Linked DNA regions of Homo sapiens. The protein of the gene in region 2 purifies or fractionates together with the protein of the main gene of each other region. This does not show direct contact. Each region holds a gene or a part of one and is shown on either strand. Other genes may lie near its edges.

Evidence for each region.
Region 1: the proteins of GRAP (region 2) and SOS1 fractionate together in Homo sapiens (co-fractionation; one study listed by BioGRID). This does not show direct contact.

What each region holds. Positions count from the first base shown.
Region 1 is NC_000002.12:39,110,845-39,114,658, reverse strand, and holds part of SOS1 (son of sevenless homolog 1), read left to right. Parts: intron 1-3,814.
Region 2 is NC_000017.11:19,029,857-19,033,670, forward strand, and holds part of GRAP (GRB2-related adapter protein), read right to left. Parts: intron 1-3,814. UniProt on the Homo sapiens protein: Couples signals from receptor and cytoplasmic tyrosine kinases to the Ras signaling pathway. Plays a role in the inner ear and in hearing.

The DNA.
Region 1 (3,814 bases), on a different chromosome or scaffold from region 2:
TACTCCAGCCTGGGTGACAGAGCTAGACTCTGTTTCAAAAAGAAACAAAAACAAATCAGCCGGGCCAGGTGGCTCACGCCTGTAATCCCAGCACTTTGAGAGGCTGAGGCGGGGGATCACCTGAGGTCAGGAGTTCGATACCAGCCTAACCAACATGGAGAAACCCCATCTCTACTAAAAATACAAAATTAGCTGGGCGTGGTGGCGCATGCCTGTAATCCTAGCTACTCAGGAGGCTGAGGCAGGAGAATTGCTTGAACCCAGGAGGCAGAGGTTATGGTGAGCTGAGATTGTGCCATTGCACTCCAGCTTGGGCAACAAGAGTGAAACTCCATCTCAGAAAAAAAGAAAAAAAAAAAAGAAAAGAACAAAAAGAAAAACAAAAAACAAAAAAAATTAGCCAGGCTTGGTGGCACGCACCTGTGGTCCTGGCTACTCAGGAGGCTGAGGTGGGAGGATTGCCTGAGCCTGGGATGTTGAGGCTGAGGTGAGCCATGATCGTGCCATTGCACTGCCGTCTGGGTGACAGGGTAAAACCCTGTCTCAGAAAAAGAAAGAAACAAAAATAGAAAGAAAAGAAAGAGTCATTGATCATACCAGGCTATAGAAAAGTCAAAGGGCCTGAAAAGTGTTAAGTTTGGCAGCTAAGGGGTCATTGGTCACTATGTCAGAGCAGTTTTATTGTGATAGTAGAAGATGGAAGAACATGGGAAAAGTAAGAATAGCAAGGGCTGCTGACCTTTTTGCTCAGATTATTTTTTTCTAGAAGCTTGGAAAGGAAGGGAAAAGAGATAGTGCTGAGGCAAAAAAGAGATTCAAGATTGGGTAAGACATTTTTGCTTCTTGCTTGGAGATGACAAAAACTTACTAAGAGCCTTTGAGGAAGGAGCTAATAGAGAATGCTGGTGAAGATTCAGGAACACAAAGCAATGGGATTTGCCTTGAACTGTTTGGGAGATAAGGTAAGCACTTCACCTGTGTTCTCATTTAATTCTCATAGGATACTATTACGGCTTCCTTTTTACAGGAGAGAAAATCAAGGTTTGGAAAGTTAAATTTGCCCATGTAATTTAGTTACAGAATCTTTATTTTTATTTTTAAAATTATTTTATTTATTTATTTTTGCACCATGGCCTCCCTCCCCCAACTCTAAAATCTGTATTTTTAAACACTATATTGCTGGGCATGGTGGCTCATGCTATTGACGCCAACACTTTGGGAGGCCAAGGCAGGAGGAGTTTGAGAACAGCCTAGGCCACATAGTGAGACCCTGTCTCTACAAGGGAAAAAAAAAAAAAAAAGAAGACAGGTATGGTGGTACATGCCTGTAGTCTCAGCTACTCAGGAGGCTGAAGTGGGAAGATTGCTTGAGCTCAGGTGTTTGAGGCTGCAGTGAGCTATGATTGGGCTACTGCACTCCAGCCTGGGTTACAGAGTGAGACTGTGTCTCTAAATACATTAATGAATAAAACACTAAGTGATGCTACCTCTGGCAGGGGTGATGACATCTTTTCTTATGAGATACAGGAGGGAAAGTGATAAAGATGGGTTTGTAGGTTGGGGAGCAGGGAGTTCATGCTAAATAATCACTTCTATTTTCTTTTCTTTTCTTTTTTTTTTTTGAGACAGAGTCTTGCTCTTGTCGCCCAGGCTGGAGTGCAGTGGTGTGATCTCCGCTCACTGTAGCCTCCACCTCCCAGGTTCCAGCAACTCTGCCTCAGCCTCCCCAGTAGCTGGGATTACAGGCGCACTCCATCACACGCAGCTAATCTTTTGTGTTTTAGTAGAGACAGGGTTTTACCATGTTGCCCAGGCTGGTCTTGAACTCCTGAGCTCAGGCAGTCTGCCCGCCTCGGCCTACCGAAGTGCTGAGATTACAGGCATGAGTCACTGCACCTGGCCAAATCACCTCCATTTTCATGATGAAATGAAAGGCAAATTTTTTTTACAGAGTGAAGAAAAGGAAAGTAGTAAGGACTTTAGAAGGAATAATGAAGTCTGGGAATTGCTGCTGTGGAGTGTAGAGGAGCCAACCAGTGCCTTAGAAAGGAATTGCAAGCCAGGTGCGGTGGCTCATGCCTGCAATTCCAGCACTTGGGAGCCTGAGGTGAGAGGATCACTTGAAACCAGGAGTTCAAGACCAGCCTGGGCAACATGGTGAAACACCGTCTCTACCAAAAAACAAAACAAAACAAAAGCCTGGCATGGTGGTACGCACCTGTAGTCCCAGCCACTTGGGAGACTGAGGTGGGAGGATCCCTTGAGCTCAGGAGGCTGATGCTGCAGTGAGCCATGGGAAAGAAAGAGCAAGAGAGAGAGGGAGAGAGAGGAATTGCTCAGCAGTGCTGAATGTGGAGACCATAAACTCAGAGTAGGGTTGATCTGGTGGTTGTGAGATTTTCCTCCAATAGCGCTTATCTGTTCAGGTAAGCCGGGAGAGAAGACAGTTGGTTGCAGGTAGCGGCAGTAGAGATTAAGAAGATAGGGATATTTCAAGTGATAGAGAGGAAGTAAGGGTATATAAGAGAAATAATGGATTGGAAGAAAAATTAGGGCTCCATGGATTCAAAATCTTGGTGAGTTAGAAGAGAAGGATAGTGGGAGTAGATAGGGGATGTGATTAGAGATGATGACAATTGTTATATTTTGGAGTTTTAAGATTCCAGAGATAGAGGCCAAGGAGGGCAGATCACTTGAGCTCAGGAGTTCAAGACCAGCCTGGCCAACATGGCAAAACCTCACTTCTACCAAAAATACAAAAATTATCTGGATGTGGTGGTGTGTGCCTGTAGTCCCAGCTGTTCGGGAGGCTGAGGTAGGAGAATCGCTTGAAACCTGGAGGTGGAGGTTGCAGTGAGCTAAGGTTGTGTCACTGCACTCCAGCCTGGGCAACAAGAGCGAAACTCCGTCTCAAAAAAAGAAAAAAAAAAAAAAAGGATTCCAGAGATGAAGCAGGTAAGACAATTAGGAGCTCTAAAGTTGATGTATTGGGTTGCATATGGGAATGATGATGAAGTCCACAGAGATTATGGAGTGTACTGTAGCAGAGAGGGAGACTGTATTCTAGGAGTGGCAGGAAGGTCCAGAAGTAACAGCAGTAAGGATGTTTTAAACAAATAATAGTAAAAGTGGCAACTACTTCTCACCTCCTCTGATGTAGTATTTATTACAGCTATAGACAAAATAGGAAGAAACTTTGTACTTCATTTTAGAATTTTGTCTTGTGATAAAGTTTTTACCCTAACATTTTGTCATGAAGATTTTTCAATACACAGAAAAGTCTAAAGAATTGTACAGTAAACACTCGTATACCCATCACCCAGATTTTATAATTAACATTTTATTACAATTTTATTATGTTTGCTCTATGGCATGCCTATCCATCCCTTCATCCTTGAATCCATCTTATTATTATTATTTTTTTTTGAGATGGAGTCTTGCTCTGTCTCCCAGGCTGGAGTGCAGTGGCACAATCTCGTCTCACTGTAACCTCCGCCTCCTGGGTTCAAGTGATTCTCCTGCCTCAGCCTCCCGATTAGCTGGGATTACAGGCATGTGCCACCACACCTGGATAATTTTTGTATTTTTATTACAGACAGGGTTTCGCCATGTTGGCCAGGCTGGTCTCAAACTCTTGACCTCAGGTGATCCACCTGCCTCGCCCTCCCAAAGTGGGATTACAGGCATGAGCCACCATGCCTGGCCCATTTTTGTATTTTTAATAGAGATGGGGTTTCTCCATGTTGGCCAGGCTGGTCTTGAATTCCTGACCTGAAGTGATCTACCCGCTTCAGCCTCCCAAAGTGCTGGGGTT
Region 2 (3,814 bases):
AGCCAGAGGAGGGAGGGGGCACTGGGATTGTGGGCCTGAGTTGGTGAGAGGAGAGGCTGCTGGAGCCATTCACTTCAGTGGGCAGTGCCGGGGGTGTGAGAGCGTCTCCATTGTGTCTGAGTGTGCATTCCTGGGATGCTTGTGTGTGTGTGTCTGTGTGTGTCTCCCACTGTGTGGAGTGACTGTTATGTGTGAGTCTCTCACTGAGCAATCATGAGTATCTTTGTCTCTCTGTGTGACCCCTACATCCACCTACCCAGGGGAACAAGGGGCTAGGCTGACCCCTGGGCTGTCAGAAAAGCCCCAAGGACCAAGTCAGGCCTAATGCTGGCAGCAGCCAGTCCTGCCCAGCGAGTTTTTCTGGCCTGGTGGCGGCAGCAGCAGCAGCAGCAGCAGCAGCAGCAGCAGCAAAGGTAACAGTGTCAGCCCAGAGAGGAAAAACAAGGCTGGGGTGGGGGCAGGAGCCCTAGGACACCCCCTCCACCACCCCAACCAGGGCTTGTGGACGTGTGGACCCACCTGGGTGCTAACTGCCCGCTGGGCGATCTCCATCAGGCATGGCCCCTCTCTGGCCTCAGTTTGCCCATCTGTGAAAAGGAGGGGTGGAACAACCTGTTCGGCAGCAGACAGGAACCAGAGTCAAGCTGAGCTTGGGAGGGGCAGGACACTGGTGCAGACAGACTCCTGCTGGGTCTTTGGAGCTCAGGGAGGGTGGGTGGAGGACAGACCAGGTCTGTCAGGGCACAGAGGTCGGTGGGCACCAGCTCTAAGTTCCTCGCTGTGTGACCTTGGGGAAGTTGCTGCACCTCTCCAGGCTTCAGTTTCCTTACCTGCAAGCTGGGCTTCTGGGGATCAGGCAGGTCTCCTCACTTCCTCCCTGTCCTTGCCTGCAGCCAGTCCCTTCCTCCTAAAATTGCACCCCCCCTCCACCACTTCCCTGCTTCATTTTCTCCAAAGCCTTGGTCATTGTGTAAGATTTTATACAATTTCCTAATCACTTATTGTCTGTCACCCAGTAGCACATGGGCACTTGAGGGACAGAGAGCTTTGCCCTATTTTGTTGCTGGCTGAATCCCCAGGCCCTGGGACAGGGCTGGCACACAGCAGGGGTTCAGTGACCAGATGGGCAGGGCAAACACATGTGCATTGACTCCAGGGTACCTCTGGCTAGAAAGGAGGCAAATATGTCACTTGGAGACAAACTGTCATTTATGGCAGAAGAGTCCACAGTAGCTTGGATAGGAGTGTGGGGCAAAAGTTAGGCAGCCCAGACATTGCACGCCAGCCTTGGCCCCTGGCCCGCTGCCCGCCAGCTCAGACATGCTCCCTGGAGGAGGAGGGGGACAGCCCTTTGTAAACTCATAAAGGGCAGCTAGCTATGGCCACAGTTGCTCTAGGAGGCAGCATGAGGCCCATAAACCCCACCTCTGACAGCTTTACAGGGCTTGGTGTGAGTATGCCAGAGATGCCATGCATAGTGCCATCAGAGTTCCCAAGTACCAACCAGCAAGGGTGGAAGAGCTCTTACACACAAATCTGCCAGGCTGTCATTTTCCGAGGTGGCCATCAGGTCACCCGGCTTCCCAGCATCTGGGTTCCCTGACTCCCTGTGCTGCTGCCTCTTCTCTAAGAGTGTTGGATTCATGGGCCGGGGGTGGGGGGCAGCCTTCCAGGCCAGGAGGGGCTCCCTAATTCCTCCCCAGCTTGGTGTGCAGTCCTTGGAGCCTTAATATAATTATGATAACTGGCACTTATCATGTGCCAGTCATCATAAAAAACACGTTACATAGCTGTCCATTTTATAAATGAGGAAACTGAGGCTCAGAGGGGTAACTTGCCCAGGATTATACAGCGAGCAGCTAGCAGGTGTCAGAGCTGACTGTTGCTCAAAATACCATGCTCTTAGCCACATGCCCCATTTGAGTCTCAGCTTCCAACTCTGACCCCTGCTTGGTGGTTGTCCAAGGACCACTGAGAGGCCCCATGACAGATGATGGACAGAATGGGAGCAGGACCCAGGAGCCTGGGCCCAGGCAGGAAGAAGCCAAGGGTCAAGGGCTCCACCTGCTGGTGCTGTGTACAACCCACAGCCAGCCAAGCCCAGGAAGCTCCTGACAGTTTTGACCTGGGCACACTTGGCCAGTATGCCTTGGACAAAAGGTTCGGGGGCACAGGCCAGGATTTCTCTGAGGGTCGCTTCCAGATCCCTTCCCAGGAAACACCGGTGCTGGCTCGCCTGCTCAAGAACTGCTCCCTAAGACTGTCCATCTTCCCTCCTGGTCAGAAAACACGTTGTTATCCAAACACACCCCTCGCTTCCCCACCTCTAGATCTCTACTCATGCTGTTTCCTGTGCCTGGCATATCATCTACTCTCCTTGTGCGCCAAAATCCTACTCATGCTTTAGAGCCCAACTCAGATGTCACTTCCTCCCTGGTGCCTTCACTATGTGGAATGTATCCACTGTCATTGAATTTCATTTATTCATTTGCTCATCATAGAGACCCCTGGGCCAGGCTGTGACCATTTCCCCTTCACATGCCTCTGGTTTGTCTCCTGTTTCAGTCCTGCCTTGTGGTTTTCACACAGCTGATGCTCAATAAATGCGTGCTGAGCAAACTCACAAGGCTGGGGTGTTCAGGTCTGATCATGTGCGTGTGCGCAGGTGGCTGCACTTACAGAGAGACGCCTGAAGAGGGCAGCACACTGGGGCGCTAACTTGGAGAGTGAGGCCGCGTGATTTGTTAGAGGAGGAAGCCGGAGGGCGGAGGGAGGGCCAGCCCCTCCCCCTCAACTCGGGCTCCAGACGTAGTTTGAGTCCCCTGTGCCCCCACTTTGCTGGGTGACCTTGGGCTTTGGGGTTGGTTCCAGGAGCCACTCAGCCAGGCCAGCCCGCCTGGCGGACGCCATTCCCAGGAGATGACCAGGCCCTGGACAGCCGACACTTGGAAGACTGCCACGTCCTGCCTCCGCAGGAGCCGCAGCTCCCCGGGGCTGCAGGGAAGTGGTGGCTGGGCTGGGGGGGTGGGGGGTGAGCCCGCGGGGACTCCAGGCTCCAGGTGCCCACACCATCCCGGGGGTGGGCAGTCAGGGCCAAGAACGCACAGTAAACCCCCAGTACACACAAGCGCACACACGCACATGCTGACAGCACTCGCATTTTTAAGATGGGGAAATAGAGGCTCAGAGGGGGCATGCGCGTTCCTGCCCCTCAGGATCACCAGCCTGCCCCCAGGAGAAAAGGGAAGGGAACAAGGCTGATGGCTGGTTCCACCAACTGGGCGCCCGGGCTCAGGGTGAATGTGGGGGGCTGTGACCCCTGAGACGTTGGATCTGCCTCCCTGGTATGGTTTGGATGTTTGTCCTCTCCGAATCTCTCACTGAAACGTGACTCCCAGTGTTAGAAGTGGGGCCTGGTGGGGGGTGTTTGGGTCATGGGACAGACCCTCATCAGTGGCTCTTTGCAGTAATGACTGAGGTCTGGTTGTTGAAAAGAGCCTGGCACCTCCCTCCCCGACTTGCCCCCGTCTCGCCATGTGATGCGCCGGATCCCCTTCCCCGTTTACCATGCGTAAAAGCTTCCTGAGGCCTCACCAGAGGCACATGCCGGTGCCATGCTTCCTACACAGCCTGTAGAACACCAAGTCAAATAAACGCCTTTTCTTTATAAATTACCCAGCCTCACGTGTTCCTTTATCACAACACTAAATGGACGAACACACCCCTAGAGCCGCCTTCCTGACCATAGGCTCCTATTCCTTGCGGGTGCCTCCAGGCTCAGGGGAGCTCGCCACCCTGCAGGGCTAGCAGCAGA